4 linked regions of the Homo sapiens genome follow. The protein of the gene in region 3 purifies or fractionates together with the protein of the main gene of each other region. This does not show direct contact. Each region holds a gene or a part of one and is shown on either strand. Other genes may lie near its edges.

The links. Proteins that work in one complex are often made in the same cells at the same time.
Region 1: the proteins of COPS5 (region 3) and DCAF4 purify together in Homo sapiens (affinity purification with mass spectrometry; 5 studies listed by BioGRID and IntAct, with this or other methods). This does not show direct contact.
Region 2: the proteins of COPS5 (region 3) and BTBD2 purify together in Homo sapiens (affinity purification with mass spectrometry; 6 studies listed by BioGRID and IntAct, with this or other methods). This does not show direct contact.
Region 4: the proteins of COPS5 (region 3) and FBXO7 purify together in Homo sapiens (affinity purification with mass spectrometry; 4 studies listed by BioGRID and IntAct, with this or other methods). This does not show direct contact.

What each region holds. Positions count from the first base shown.
Region 1 is NC_000014.9:72,932,964-72,936,463, forward strand, and holds part of DCAF4 (DDB1- and CUL4-associated factor 4), read left to right. Parts: intron 1-2,059; exon of another isoform or gene 2,060-2,223; intron 2,224-3,500. UniProt on the Homo sapiens protein: May function as a substrate receptor for CUL4-DDB1 E3 ubiquitin-protein ligase complex.
Region 2 is NC_000019.10:1,995,215-1,998,714, forward strand, and holds part of BTBD2 (BTB/POZ domain-containing protein 2), read right to left. Parts: intron 2,250-3,500; coding exon 2,130-2,249; intron 1-2,129.
Region 3 is NC_000008.11:67,055,634-67,059,133, reverse strand, and holds part of COPS5 (COP9 signalosome complex subunit 5), read left to right. Parts: intron 1-922; coding exon 923-1,051; intron 1,052-1,688; coding exon 1,689-1,754; intron 1,755-2,529; coding exon 2,530-2,615; intron 2,616-3,500. UniProt on the Homo sapiens protein: Probable protease subunit of the COP9 signalosome complex (CSN), a complex involved in various cellular and developmental processes.
Region 4 is NC_000022.11:32,495,311-32,498,810, reverse strand, and holds part of FBXO7 (F-box only protein 7), read right to left. Parts: intron 3,319-3,500; coding exon 3,281-3,318; intron 668-3,280; coding exon 281-667; 3' UTR 1-280. UniProt on the Homo sapiens protein: Substrate recognition component of a SCF (SKP1-CUL1-F-box protein) E3 ubiquitin-protein ligase complex which mediates the ubiquitination and subsequent proteasomal degradation of target proteins and plays a role in several biological processes such as cell cycle, cell proliferation, or maintenance of chromosome stability.

The DNA.
Region 1 (3,500 bases), on a different chromosome or scaffold from region 3:
CCTAGGCTCAAGCAATCCTCCTGCCTCGGCTTCCCGAGCAGCTGGGATTATAGGCATCAGCCACTGCACCCAGCCCTGGATAATTCTTGCTGAAGAATGTGTGGAAGCTGCCCTGCGCATTGTAGGGTGGTTAGCAGCATCCCTGGCTTTTACCCACTAGGCGCTAGTAGCAGCCTACCCCTCCTTCTCCCGAGCTGTGACAAACAAAAATGTCTCCAGACATTGCCAGATGTCCCCTGGTGGGCAAAATAATCCTTAAGAAGCACTGATCTACAAACTGTGATGCATACTGGGTTTTATATTATTACTAGATAAAATTGTCTCTAATGGCCAGGTGCGGTAATCCCAGCACTTTGGGAGGCCGAGATGGGCAGATCACAAGGTCAGGAGTTCGAGACCAGCCTGGCCATTATGGTGAAACCACATCTCTACTAAAAATACAAAAATGAGCCAGGCATGGTGGCATGCGCCTGTAGCCCCAGCTATTCGGGAGGCTGAGGCAGAAGAATCGCTTGAACCCAGGAGGCAGAGGTTGCAGTGAGCCGAGATTGTGCCATTGCACTCCAGCCTGGGTGACAGAGCAAGACTCCATCTCAAAAAAAAAAAAAAAAGTCTCTAATTCTCACTGTATACCATTACCACTTTGGTGCCATTTGTCCCAGTCCATGTCACCATATCCTGTTTACTTTCAAATCTGTCTCTTTAGGCTCAATTTCTCTCTGTATTCTCAGACCCGTATTTCCCATTGCCTGCATCTTGAGATTGATTTGTTCAAAATCAGACTTACTCTCCTCTCCCCAAAGTGTTCTTCCTTTATTCTTAGTCTCCCTGCTCATGACTCTACCAGTTATTCACTTAACCTTTCTCAACTCCTCTCTCCACCTCTCCCATGAAATTTGCTGCCTAAATCTAAATCCAGGCTCCGCTATCCCAAGTACCATGTCCATAATGTGTAAGCGAGTTCATCTCACCTGGCTTGCCACTGCAGTTCTTACTTGTCACCCCATGCCGCTGCCTTTCAGGTGCCCTTTCTTAGCAGCTCTAATCATGTCACTCCTCGCACACCCAGAGTCCTCATGATCATGCCCTGTCTGCCTCTGCAGGCTCATCCCCCCCATTTCTTGAACTTCAGGCTCTGGCCATACCAAACAGCCTGCAGGCCCCCCGCCCCCACTGCCTTACGTGGCATTTTCTTTTTTTTTTTTTTGAGACGGAGTCTCGCTCTGTTGCTCAAGGCTGGAGTGCAATGGCGCTATCTCGGCTCACGGCAACCTCCACCTCCCGGGTTCAAGCGATTCTCCTGCCTCAGCCTCCCAAGTAGTGGGGATTGCAGGCGCCCACTACCATGCCTGGCTAATTTTTGTATTTTTAGTAGAGACGGGGTTTCTCCATGTTGGTCAGGCTGGTCTCAAACTCCCAACCTCAGGTGATCCACCCGTCTCGGCCTCCCAAAGTGCTGGGATTACAGGTGTGAGCCACTGCACCCGGCCTAATTTTTGTATTTTTAGTAGAGTTGGGGTTTCGTCATGTTGGTCAGGCTGGTCTCAAACTGCTGACCTCAGGTGATCTGCCCACCTCAGTCTGCCAAAGTGCTGGGATTACAGGCGTGAACCACCACGCCGGGCTTGCCTGACATTTTCATTCTTCAGACTGCACTTATCTCCCTCCCCCACCTCCAGCCCAGGCATGTGGAGCAGTCACTCCCTTCTCTCCCACCACACCTGGAGAGACCTGGGTCTTCATCCTTATCCTGTGCTGCAGGGGTTGGTCTGTGCATCTGTCTCCCATATTAAACAATCGGTGCCTCCAAGCCAGGTAGCACAGCTTATTATCTCTGCCCACTCCCCAGTGCCTCACATGGAGTGGGCGCTTTGTAAATGTGTGTGGAGTAGTAAGTGGAAATAACCCAGAGCAGAAAGAAGCTACCTGGGACTTAAATGTAAAGTAGCCACAGGTTTTGTTTTGCTTTGCTTCAGTTCAGCAAAAATTTACTAAGCACCAACTAGGTCATGGATGCTAGGAATAGAAAAAAGAACAAAGTAGGATGTTTGCCTTACAGAATTCACCTCACGTCCAGTATGAGATGGGAGTATGAACAAACAGTCATGCAGAGTGATGAGTGCAAACATGGACTATAAAGCGGCCATAGAGAATGAACTGTGTTTGTGTTTAGAGAAGACACACTCCCCACCCCTGAACAGGCTTCTTAAAAGTACTAGAAAGGTACTGTCTTTGTCCTAGCCTTTAAACTCTTACTGTATTTGGAAGGCTTCTATTAGTATGTGACTTTTTAAATGATTTTTTTTTTTGAGACGGAGTTTCACCCTTTTGCCCAGGCTGGAGTGCGGTGGTGCAATCTCAGCTCACTGCAACCTCCGCCACCTGGGTTCAAACGATTCTCCTGCCTCAGCCTCCCAAGTAACCGGGATTACAGGCACCAGCCACCACACCCAGTGAACTGTTGTACTTTTAGTAGAGACGGGGTTTCACCACGTTGGCCAGGCTGATCTCAAACTCCTGACCTCAGGTGATCCACCCGCATCGGCCTCCCAAAGTGTTGGGATTACAGGCGTGAGCCACCACATCCGGCCTTTAAAATGATTTTTGCTTGACCTTGCTAACTATATTACTTGAGGTTGGCAGGCTCCCTTACCAGATTGCAGTGCCTGTATGAGTTAGGGGTGAACACATGCTCTCCCTGGCCCAAATTGGCATTCGCCAGTGATTTTATCATCGGCTGCGTCCTGCTGATTGTGCAGCCCCCTATTGAGAATAATGGTGTGAGTGGGACACAGTCCTGCCTCCTGTGGGTGATCTGAAGTCTTTGACTCACCAGTTCGTGTGTTCTTTGCTGTATTCATGCATTGTTACATAATTCAACAAATTAGAATCATTTCATATACAGAATATGCACTCTAAAGAAATTTTGACCTTTTTATAGAGTTGGTAATAATAATAATCTTTATGTCAGTAGAGTTTATTTTTCCTATCAGTCTTTTTCTCTTTTTGAGATGGGGTCTCACTCTATTGCCCAGGCTGGTCTCAAACTCTGGGCTCAAGAGATCCTCCCACTTCAGCCTCCCAAAAGTGCTGGGATTACAGGCATGAGCTACTGCACGCAGCCATTTTCCTACCAGTCTTAACACTGGCCACACGTGCTTCCCTTCCTGTGCGCAGTCCCTTTCAGCTTGTAACTTAACTATTAATAAATACAACTGTATTCTTTAGCTGGGGTATAAGATAACTGATCCATAGGGAAACCCACACATGGTGTTCAGGAGCCATTGTTTAGGACAATGAATAAGATAAAAGTTTTGGAGCCGGGCTTGGTGGCCCACGCCTGTAATCCCAGCACTTTGGGAGGACGAGGCAGGTAGATCACTTGAAGCCAGGAGTTCTTGAGCAGCCTGGCCAACATGGTGAAACCCCATCTCTACTAAAAATACAAAAATTAGCTGGGTGTGGTGGCAGGTGCCTGTAGTCCCAGCTACTCGGGAGGC
Region 2 (3,500 bases), on a different chromosome or scaffold from region 3:
CCTCAGCCTCCCAAAGTGCTGGGATTACAGGTGTGAGCCACCGCGCCTAGCCATACTTTGGATTCTTTTTTTTTTTTTTTTTTTTGAGAGGGAGTCTTGCTCTGTTGCCCAAGCTGGAGTGCAGTGGCATGACCTCAGCTCACTGCAAGCTCTGCCACCTGGGTTCACACCATTCTCCTGCCTCAGCCTCCTGAGTAGCTGGGACTACAGGCGCCTGCCACCATGCCCGGCTAATTTTTTTGTATTTTTAGTAGAGACGGGGTTTCACCGTGTTAGCCAGGATGGTCTCGATCTCCTGACCTCATGATCCACCCACCTCGGCCTCCCAAAGTGCTGGGATTACAGGCCTGAGCCACTGCGCCTGGCCACTTTGGATTCTTCTAAGTATTTTACAGGTCTAGATCTTACATTTTGGACTTTGATCTATTTTTTTTTTTTTTGAGACAGAGTCTCGCTCTGTCGCCCAGGCTGGAGTGCAGTGGCATGATCTCAGTCCACTCCAACCTCCATCTCCCGGGTTCACGCCATTCTCCTGCCTCAGCCTCCCAAGTAGCTGCGACTACGGGCGTCCGCCACCATGCCCGGCTAATTTTCTTATTTTTTATTTATTTTTTCTATTTTTAATAGAGACGAGGTTTCACCATGTTAGCCAGCATGGTCTCAATCTCCTGATCTCGTGATCCGCCCATCTCAGCCTCCCAAAGTACTGGGATTACAGGCGTGAGCCACCGTGCCCAGCCTGGACTTTGATCTATTTGAGTTAATTTTTATATACAGTAAGGTAAGGGTCTAACTTCATTCTTCTGCATGTGTATTTCTAGTTGTGCCTGTGCTATTTGTTAAACTCTCTTTTCTGTTGAATGGCCTTGGCACCCTTGCAAAAAATTATTTAACCCTATGTGCAAAGGTATTTATTTCTGAGCTCTCTGTTCCATTCCATTGGTCCCCACGTTCTGTCCTTACGCCAGTACCACACTGTTTTGATGATTGTAGCTTTGCAGTGAGTTTTGAAATCAGAAAGTATGAGCCCTCCAACTTTGTTCTTTTTCAAGATCGTTGTGGCTATTCAGGGTCCCTTGGGATTCCATATGAATTCTAGGATAGTTTTTCTATTTTTGCAAAAAACAGTAATTCTGATAGGATTATACTGACTGCAGATCGCAGTGGGTTGTGTGGACATCTTAACAATATTCTCTTCAATCCATGGACATGGGATGTGTTTCCATTTATTGTGTCTTTTTAAATTTCTTTCACTGATGTTTCCTTTTTTTTGTTGTTGTTGTTATTTTTTGTTTGTGTACTCCAGCTTGGGCAACAGGAGCAAAACTGTCAAAAAAAAAAAAAAAAAGAAGGAAAGAAAAGAAAAGAAAAAGAAAAGCAGGGAACTGGCTGGACACAGTGGCTCATGCCTGTAATCCCAGCACTTTGGGAGGCTGAGGCAGGCGGATCACCTGAGGCCAGGAGTCTGAGACCAGCCTGGCCAACATAGAGAAACGCTGTCTCTACTGAAAAACACACAAATGAGCTGGGTGTGGTGGTGAACACCTGTAATCCCAGGTACTCAGGAGAATCACTTGAACCAGGAAGTCGGAGGTCTCAATGAGCTGAGATCACACCACTGCACTCCATCCTGGGCAACAGAGCAAGACCACGTCTAAAAAATATAAAATAAAAAGGGTGCCTCTGGGCTGGGCGCGGTGGCTCAGGCTTGTAATCCCAGCACTTTGGGAGGCTGAGGTGGGTGGATCATGATGTCAGATCGAGACCATCCTGACTAACACAGTGAAACCCCATCTCTACTAAAAATACAAAAAAATTAGCCGGGCGTGGTGGCACGAGCCTGTAGTCCCAGCTACTTAGGAGGTTGAGGCAGGAAAATCACTTGAACCTGGAAGACTGAGGTTGCAGTGAGCCAAGATCACGGCACTGCACTCCAGCCTGGGCAACAGAGCGAGACTCCATCTCAAAAAGAAAAAAAAAAGTGCCTCTGGAACCCCTCATTGCACAGGAACGTTCTAGAAATCTCCACCAAGCCAGGGCCTCTGAGCTGGTGTCAGACAGGGTCTACGTTCTCTGAGGTCCCCCTCCCCAGGCCCAGCTCCCCAGCAGGAAGCATCCGGAAGCATTACTTGAGCAGTGCGAGGAAGGCAGCGGGTTCCACGTCGGGCAGCTCAATCTCCGTGGATGTTGTGGCCATTCCCCCGTTGAACATGGCATCAAAGACGGCGCTGCCCACGGCCAGCACGAACCTGGTACGGGAGAGAGAAGGCCCTGGTTAAGCCCGTGGCCGCCACCCCACGGCCGGGAGGGCCAGCCCGGTATCCTGGGTGACCACCCCACTAGGGCTCCCTGCCAGCCTCCAGCAGGCATGTACCAGGCCCCCCGATGGCAGAGGCTTCTGGAAGGGGCCTGGGACAGCAGGAGGGTGATGCAGACGGACCCACGGCAAGGACAGGCAGGGCTAGGACCATGCCCTGGGCCACACAGGGCCTCACGCTCTGCCAGCCCTCACCATCCTCTCTCTTTCCTTCCAGGCGTCAGGCACGCACTCATTCACTCATTCCCATATGCATGCATTTATTCACACGTGTTCATTCACACATGCATTCACACATACGTTCATTCATGCATGCATTCACTCGCTCATTCACATGCATTCATTCACACAGGCGTTCATTCACTCATTCATTCACATATTCATTCATTAACTAATTTCCATGTACATTCACTCAACTCATACACATGCACTCATTCATTCATCCACACATGCATTCATTGATCCACTGATTCATTCCCGTGGGCATGCATTCACTTGCTCATTTATGACACATGCATTCATTCACTTTCTCATTCATCGCACACTCATTCACTCACCCATTCACACACACACACATTCGTTCATTCCCACATGCACTCATCCACTTAGTCTCATTATTCACTCATTCATTCACACTCGTCTACTCTCTATCACTCTCCTGCTCACGCATTCCCTCATCAGCACAAGCTTTCCCAGGGAGTCAGCTACAGGCACAGGGCCTGGCCTCACTGAGGGAGACAGACGAGGACCAAATGGCCGAACAGCCCCCACTGAGTGAGAGAAGAGAGAGGAGCGTGGTCCCATCAGGAACGCAAGGCCCAGGGAAGCCCTGTGGGGTCATCTGAGCCGCCACGTCCATGGGGAAGGGCATGGAGGCCCAGGAACAGCAGGAGCGTGGGAGGAGCGTTAGGAGGCAGCAGGGGTGGCCCCAGCTGGGAAAGCGGTGGCTGTGAGGACGCTGGGGGTTCTGCCCCGTGTGAAGCTCAGGCTGCCTATGGGGCCCACTCAGTGGCTCAGATCTTCGATATCGCCACAGGCAGGAGGGTGCGGTGAGCAGAGAAAGGCTGCTGGTGCCTCCCCAAGAGCCGGCTATGAACCCGCGTTTGGCCAGGTCTGTATGGGGTGGGGAGAACTCCACGGCTCCCAGGCTCAAGACGCCACTCTGTGCTGTCCATGTACAGTC
Region 3 (3,500 bases):
TTATCCCCTTTACATGAAATTTTATATTTAAATTTTAATGATTTATATGTAAAATGTACGAGATTAAAAGCCTGATAAGACTTATAGCATGGTTTTTTTTGTTTTTTGTTGTTGTTGTTTTTTTTTTTTCGAGACAGGGACTCACTCTGTTGCCCAGGCTGGAGTGCAGTGGCGTGATCTCAGCTCACTGCAACCTCCATCTCCTGGGCTGAAGCAATTCTCCCTCCTCAGCCTCCTGAGTAGCTGGGACTACAGGCGTGCACCAGTAGGCCTGGATAATTTTTCTATTTTTAGTAGAGACGGGTTTTCTCTGTGTTGGCCTGGCTGGTCCCAAACTCCTGTCCTCAGGTGATCCACCACCTCAGCCTCCCAAAGTGCTGGGATTACAGGCATGAGCCACTGCACCCGGTCTATGGCATGGATTTTATTTTTTTTTTAAATAAACTCTCACACTTATTATCAGATACGTGTTTAAAATAAAAAATTTGGAAACAACCTAACTCAGTTCCTGAGTATAAAACTGGCTAAATAAATTATGGTATATCCATCAGTGGACTGCCAGGCAGCCTTTAAAAGAAAAAAAAATAAAAAGATAACCATCATATATATTGATGATTTATATGAAGCAAACTCCAAAGCAGTTTATTGAGTGAAAAAACAAAGTGTAAAACATTATTATGTTATGTGGTATGCTATTGTGTGTGTTTTTATCAATCTATGTATGTGCAAAGAATATGTATTCTGTATACAAAGAATATCTCTGTAAGGGTAAGCAATTGCCCATAGATTTCGCATCTGGGCTGAGAAAAGTGGGTAATTGAGGAGAAGGAGATGGGAAGGAGACTGGTTACCCTTATTGTACTGGTACCTTGTAAATTAATTAAAGAGTAATCTTAAACTTTTTTGCCCCTTCATTTGTTAGGTTGGCCGCCTTGAAAATGCAATCGGGTGGTATCATAGCCACCCTGGCTATGGCTGCTGGCTTTCTGGGATTGATGTTAGTACTCAGATGCTCAATCAGCAGTTCCAGGAACCATTTGTAGCAGTGGTGGTAAGAATTTTAAAACCAGTTTAATTAAGTTCTTTATGAAGATTTGCTGAAGCAAGTATACTGAGAAATAAGAATAGTGTAGTAAAGAGAAATTGCTCTGGTATCAGTCTGCCTAGGTTTCAATGTGAATTCCATCTCTTAGAAGCTGGGACTTTGAGCAAATTATTTAACCACTGTGTATCTTGCTTCTCCCCTCTGTAAATTGTGGGTAGTCATAGCATCTATGTCTCAGTGCCAGCTCATCATAGGCATTCAATCAGTGTTGACTGAACTGAGTTAAGCAGGAATTGCTAGAGCAGCTCTTATTATGTTCAGGGTGTTTTAAGTGCAATCCAGGTTTTATGAGGAAGGTAGGAGTTATTCACCTCTTAAAAGGACAAAAGAAAACTTTTTAAAAATAGATGAGCAAACCTTCAAATAATATTCTTAAATGTTATAATAATTTGAATCTCTAAGTTAGCTGTGAGACACTTATATTACCCTCTTACTGAACTTTTATGGTTTTTTGGTTTATTCTTATTTGGTTATTATGTATGTATATAGTGTTATATGTATGTATACATTTCTAGGTTTATAATGTTTAAATAAAAGGCATACAGTTTTATATCAGCAGATATTAAATATATCTTTCTTATAGATTGATCCAACAAGAACAATATCCGCAGGGAAAGTGAATCTTGGCGCCTTTAGGACATACCCAAAGGTAACTTTTTTTTTTTTTAAGAGTTAGAGTCTCACTGTGTTACCTAGGCTGGAGTACAGTGGCTATTCACAGGCATGATCATAGTGTACTACAGCCTTCATCGCCTAGGCTCAAGCCAACTCAGCCTCCCAAGTAGCTGGGACGGTAGGAATGCTTAGTAATTTTTAAAATTATAAGTCCTTACATTTTTTAAATTCCAAATATTTGACTTATTATTAAAGACATTAGCAATATCTCTTGTTATTAAAACAATTCAATAATATTTACAAAATAGTAAACTACCACAAGCTGTCCCTAGCAAAGGGTAATACATTTATGTTATATATTGTTAATTTTACTGGAAAAGCAGTCTTTATTTATTAATAAGTATCTGTGTGCCTGTGGCATTCTGCCAGGTACTAGAGAAAAAACAAGCTAAATCTATAGGTCTATTTCCTTCCCTGGCAGGAGGCCGCAATCTGAAATAGTTATTAGAACAAAAGTACATCACCTAAGGAGAAGAAAAATAAATCTGTAAGCAAAATCCAGCCTACAGCCACCAAACTGGGTGGGGGGAAAGTAGAAACAGTATTTTTTTTTTATTAGAATGCTCATGTTAAATATTTGCCTCCGAAAGTTAATAATCCTATTATTAGAAAGCTCCATAGAAAACATGTTTTTCTCATTTTTATATATATATATATATATATATATATATATATATATATATATATATATATATATATATTTTTTTTTTTTTTTTTCTTAATCTTCTGTTTACCTCATTTTTGTTTAGGGCTACAAACCTCCTGATGAAGGACCTTCTGAGTACCAGACTATTCCACTTAATAAAATAGAAGATTTTGGTGTACACTGCAAACAGTAAGTAATTTAAAAACATATCTGGGCCAGGCACGGTGACTCACACCTATAATCCCAGCACTTTGGGAAGCCACAGTGAGAGGATTGCTTGAGGACAGGAATTCGACACTAGCCTGGGCAACATAGTGAGACCCCATCTCTACAAAAAATGTTATAAAAGTTAGCCAGATGAAGTGGCACAGTCCTGTAGTCCCAGCACTCAGGAGGCCTAAAGAAACCTTAGATATCAACCAGTCCAAGCCCCTTATTTTACAGATGAGACAAAAGGCATAGACAAAATGCATTTCATGATAGCTTTTACAATAATAGTATATGAATTTAGGTAAATGTTTGCATTTTTAAATTTTTTTCTTTTGCATTTTTTATTAATGTTTCAAACTAGCATGTCATTTGCCTTTTAAACAACCTAAACTTTTTCTAATGTACAAGATATTTGGCCTACATAAAATTATAACAAGTGAAAGATGGGTTCAGGACCAGCTGACACTAGCATGTCTGCAGCCCTCAAAATATATAATTTCTACTGAACAAAGATTCTTTCTAATCTTTGAAAGATTTGAAAGACTAAAGAAGCCATATTAAAAAGTCAAAGTTATAAAAGTGTAAGAATTCTTACTAAAAACCACTGTATTACATACCCTCCCCCCACCCCCAAGACATAGTCTTGCTCTGTTGCCCAGGCTGGAGTGCAGTGGCGTGATCTTGGCTCACTGCAACCTCCGCCTCCTAGGTTCAAGCAATTCTCCTGCCTCAGCCTCCCAAGTAGCTGGGATTATAGGTGTGTGCCACCACACCTAGCTAATTTTTGTATTTTTAGTAGAGACAGGGTTTCACCGTGTTGGCCAGGCTGGTCTCAAACTCCTGACCTCGTGATCCACCCGCCTC
Region 4 (3,500 bases), on a different chromosome or scaffold from region 3:
ATCTGGTAAGAACAGCATCAGAAAACAAACTTCAATCTAGAGGAGAACCAAGAGCAGGGAGATTGGCAGCCAACTATTCCCAAGGCCAACCTTGTCACAGAGGAACCTTTGGGTCATACCACCCCTAGGGCTATAAATGTATCTCTTAAAAGGTTTCTGGGAGTGCAACTCTCAACACCACAATCAGAAAATAACACTCGAGATCAGCACCCCAAGGAGTTGACATCTGTAGTTTAGAAACAAAAACAAATGGAGCTCCAGAAATGAAATTACAAATCAATCACATGAATGACAGCCGGCCATCAGTTGGCCGACCCCTGCTGGGTCTAAAGGGAAATCTGTCATTGGGGCCGCCTCGCCCTGGCAAGATGGGGTTAGGTCCTGGAAGTGGGCCAACTGGATCAAAGCGTGGTCTCAGTGGAGGAAACTGGCTGGGCGTCTCCCCAGGACCAGGAATGAGTGAACTGATTGGGTCTCCAACATAGGGAAGTGTTGGTCTTTGGTCATATTCACCCCCGATAATTCCTGGAGGAAGGCGGGAGCTAGGAAATGGCCTAGGGTGCAAGGGGTTGGGATAGAATGGAATGGTGTGAGTTGACGATGGCAGGAGCATCACAAACCGCCCTTTCGGGGATTCTTTTCTTTGTATGTGCCTCTTCCTGTACAGCTGTAGAAAAAAGAAAAATAAAAGAACAAGATAAGGTAAGTGATCTGGATGTTTCCCTTTAGTTCTAATTTGCTTTCATAGTAAAGATCTATAGGCACACCTCAGACATATTGTGGATTTAGTCCCAAACCAATGCAATAAACCAAGTCACACAAATTTTTTTGGTTTCCCAGTGTATATAAATGCTATGCTATGTTTACACTATAGTAAGTGTGCAATAGCATTGTATCTAAAAAGACAATGTACATACCTTAATTTAAAAATATGCTAACAATCACCTGAGCCTTTAGCAAGTTGCAATCTTTTTGCTAATAGAGGGTCTTGCCTCCATGTTCGTTGCTGCTGACAGATCAGGGTGCTGGTTGCTAAAGGCTGAAGTGGCTGTGGCAATTTCTTAAAATAATACAACAGTGAAGTTTGTCACATTGACTCACTCTTCCTTTCATGAAAGATTTCTCTGTACATGCGATGCTGTTTGATGGCATTTTACCCACAGTAAAACTTTCAAAATCAGAGTCAACCTTCTCAAACCTTGCTTCTGTTTTGTCAACTAAATTTATGTAATATTCGAAATCCTTTGTTGTCCAGGAATAGATTCCATTCCAAGAAACCACTGATAAAGAAAATGTGGCATATATACACCATGGAATACTACTCAGCCATAAAAAGGAATGAAATAATGTCTTTTGCAGCAACTTGGATGCAGCTGGAGGCCATTATTTTAAGTGAAGTAACTCTAGAATGGAAAACCAAATCTTGTGAGACCTAACCTATGAGGATGCAAAGGCATAAGAATGACATAATGGACTTTGGGGACTTAGGGGGAAAGGCTGGGAGGGAGGTGACGGCTAAAAGACTACATATTGGGTACAGTTGTACACTGCTTGGGTGACGGGTGCACTAAAATCTCAGAAATCACCACTAAAGAACTCATCTATGCAACCAAAAACCACCTGTACCCCAAAAACTATTGACATTTTTTTAAAAAAAGAAACCACTTTCTCTCTTTATCCGTAAGAAGCAAGTTCTCATCCATTCAAGTTTGACTGTGAGACTGCAGCAATTCAGTCCCATCTTCAGGCTCCACTTCTAATTCTAGCTCTCTTGCTAGGTCCATCACATCTGCACTTCCTCCACTGAAGTCTTGAACCCCTCAAAGTCATCCACGAGGATTGGAATCAACTTCCAAACTCCTGTTGATATTTTTATCTCCCCCATGAATCCTCAGTATGCTTAATGGCATCTAGAAGGCTAAATCCTTTCCAAAAGGTTTTCAATTTCCTTTGTCCAGATCCATCAGAGGAATCACCATCTCTGGCAACTATGGCCTGACAAAATGTATTTCTTAAATAATAAGATTCAAAGTCAAAATTATTCCTTGATCCATGAGCTTCAGAATGCAGTTGTTTGCTGACATGAAAACGTTAATCTCCTTGAACATCTCCATCAGAGCTCTGGGATGACTGGCTGCATTGTCAATGAGCAGTAGTATTTTAAAAGGAGTATTTTTTATAAGCAGTAGGCCTCAATAGTGGACTTGAAATATTCAGTAAACCATGCCATAAATGATGTACTGTCATCCAGGCTTTGTTGTTCCATTTACAGAGCAAAGGCACAGATTTAGCATAATTCCTTTTTTTGTTGTTTTTTTGTTTGTTTTTTGAGACAGAGTCTCACACTGTCTCCTGGGCTGGAGTGCAATGGAGCGATCTTGGCTCACTGCAACCTCCACCTCCTGGGTTCAAGCGATTCTCCTGCCTCAGCCTCCTGAGTAGCTGGGATTACAGGTCCACACCACCACATCCGGCTAATTTTTTGTATTTTTAGTAGAGACAGGGTTTCACCGTGTTAGCCAAGATGGTCTCCAACTCCTGACCTCAGGTGATCCGCCCACTTCGGCCTCCCAAAGTGCTGGGATTACAGGCGTGAGCCACCACACCCGGCCTGATTTAGCATAATTGTTAAGGGCCCTAGGATTTTCAGAATGGTCAACAAGCACTGGCTTCAAAAATCACCAACTGCATTAGCCCCTAACAAAAGAGTCAGCCTGTCCTTTGAAGCTGGGCACTGACTACTTCTCTCTAGCTATGAAATAGATGGCGTCTTCTTCCAATAGAAAGCTGTCTCACCTACACTGAAAATCTGTTGTGTAATGCAGCCACCTTCATCAGTGATTTTAGCTACATCTTCTGGATAACTTGCAGCAGCTTTTCCATCAGCACTTGCTGCTCCACCTTGCAGTTTTTGTTATAGAGACATTAGAATAGTACCTTATGAAACAATACAATATATTCTTTTCATAAGGTACTATCTTAACTAGCTGAACAGCTGATGACTACTCCAGCACAGACAACTCATTTAAATTTTGTTGCAAAAAAGAATGTTTTATAATAAAGATGAAAAATAACACAATGATAACATTTTTTTCCATATAATTATAATAAGGATTGAGTCTAAAGTAAAAGTTGAAAACATTTTCATTTACTGAAATTTAGCAATAAATTAAAACAGATTTCACTACATCATATAAAAGTGAAAATATACCCTTAATATATTAATTCACTAGTCATTTCTGTGTTATGGACATTAGTCTTAATATTTAAAAATACCTACTTCTTTCCAATCTGTGTCTTGAACTCTGACAGTATTGTCTACAAAGGAAAAGGGAAAAATAAGGATTTAAAAACATTTCATTCGTCCTGCATTAAACAGTGGGTTTTGTTTTTCTCCTAAGAAAAGTGAAACTTACCCGTTAAGCATAAAAAAAAAAAAAAACTAACCATTTATATAACACACACTATATCATTTGTACTTTCTTATCTAATTCAAACAC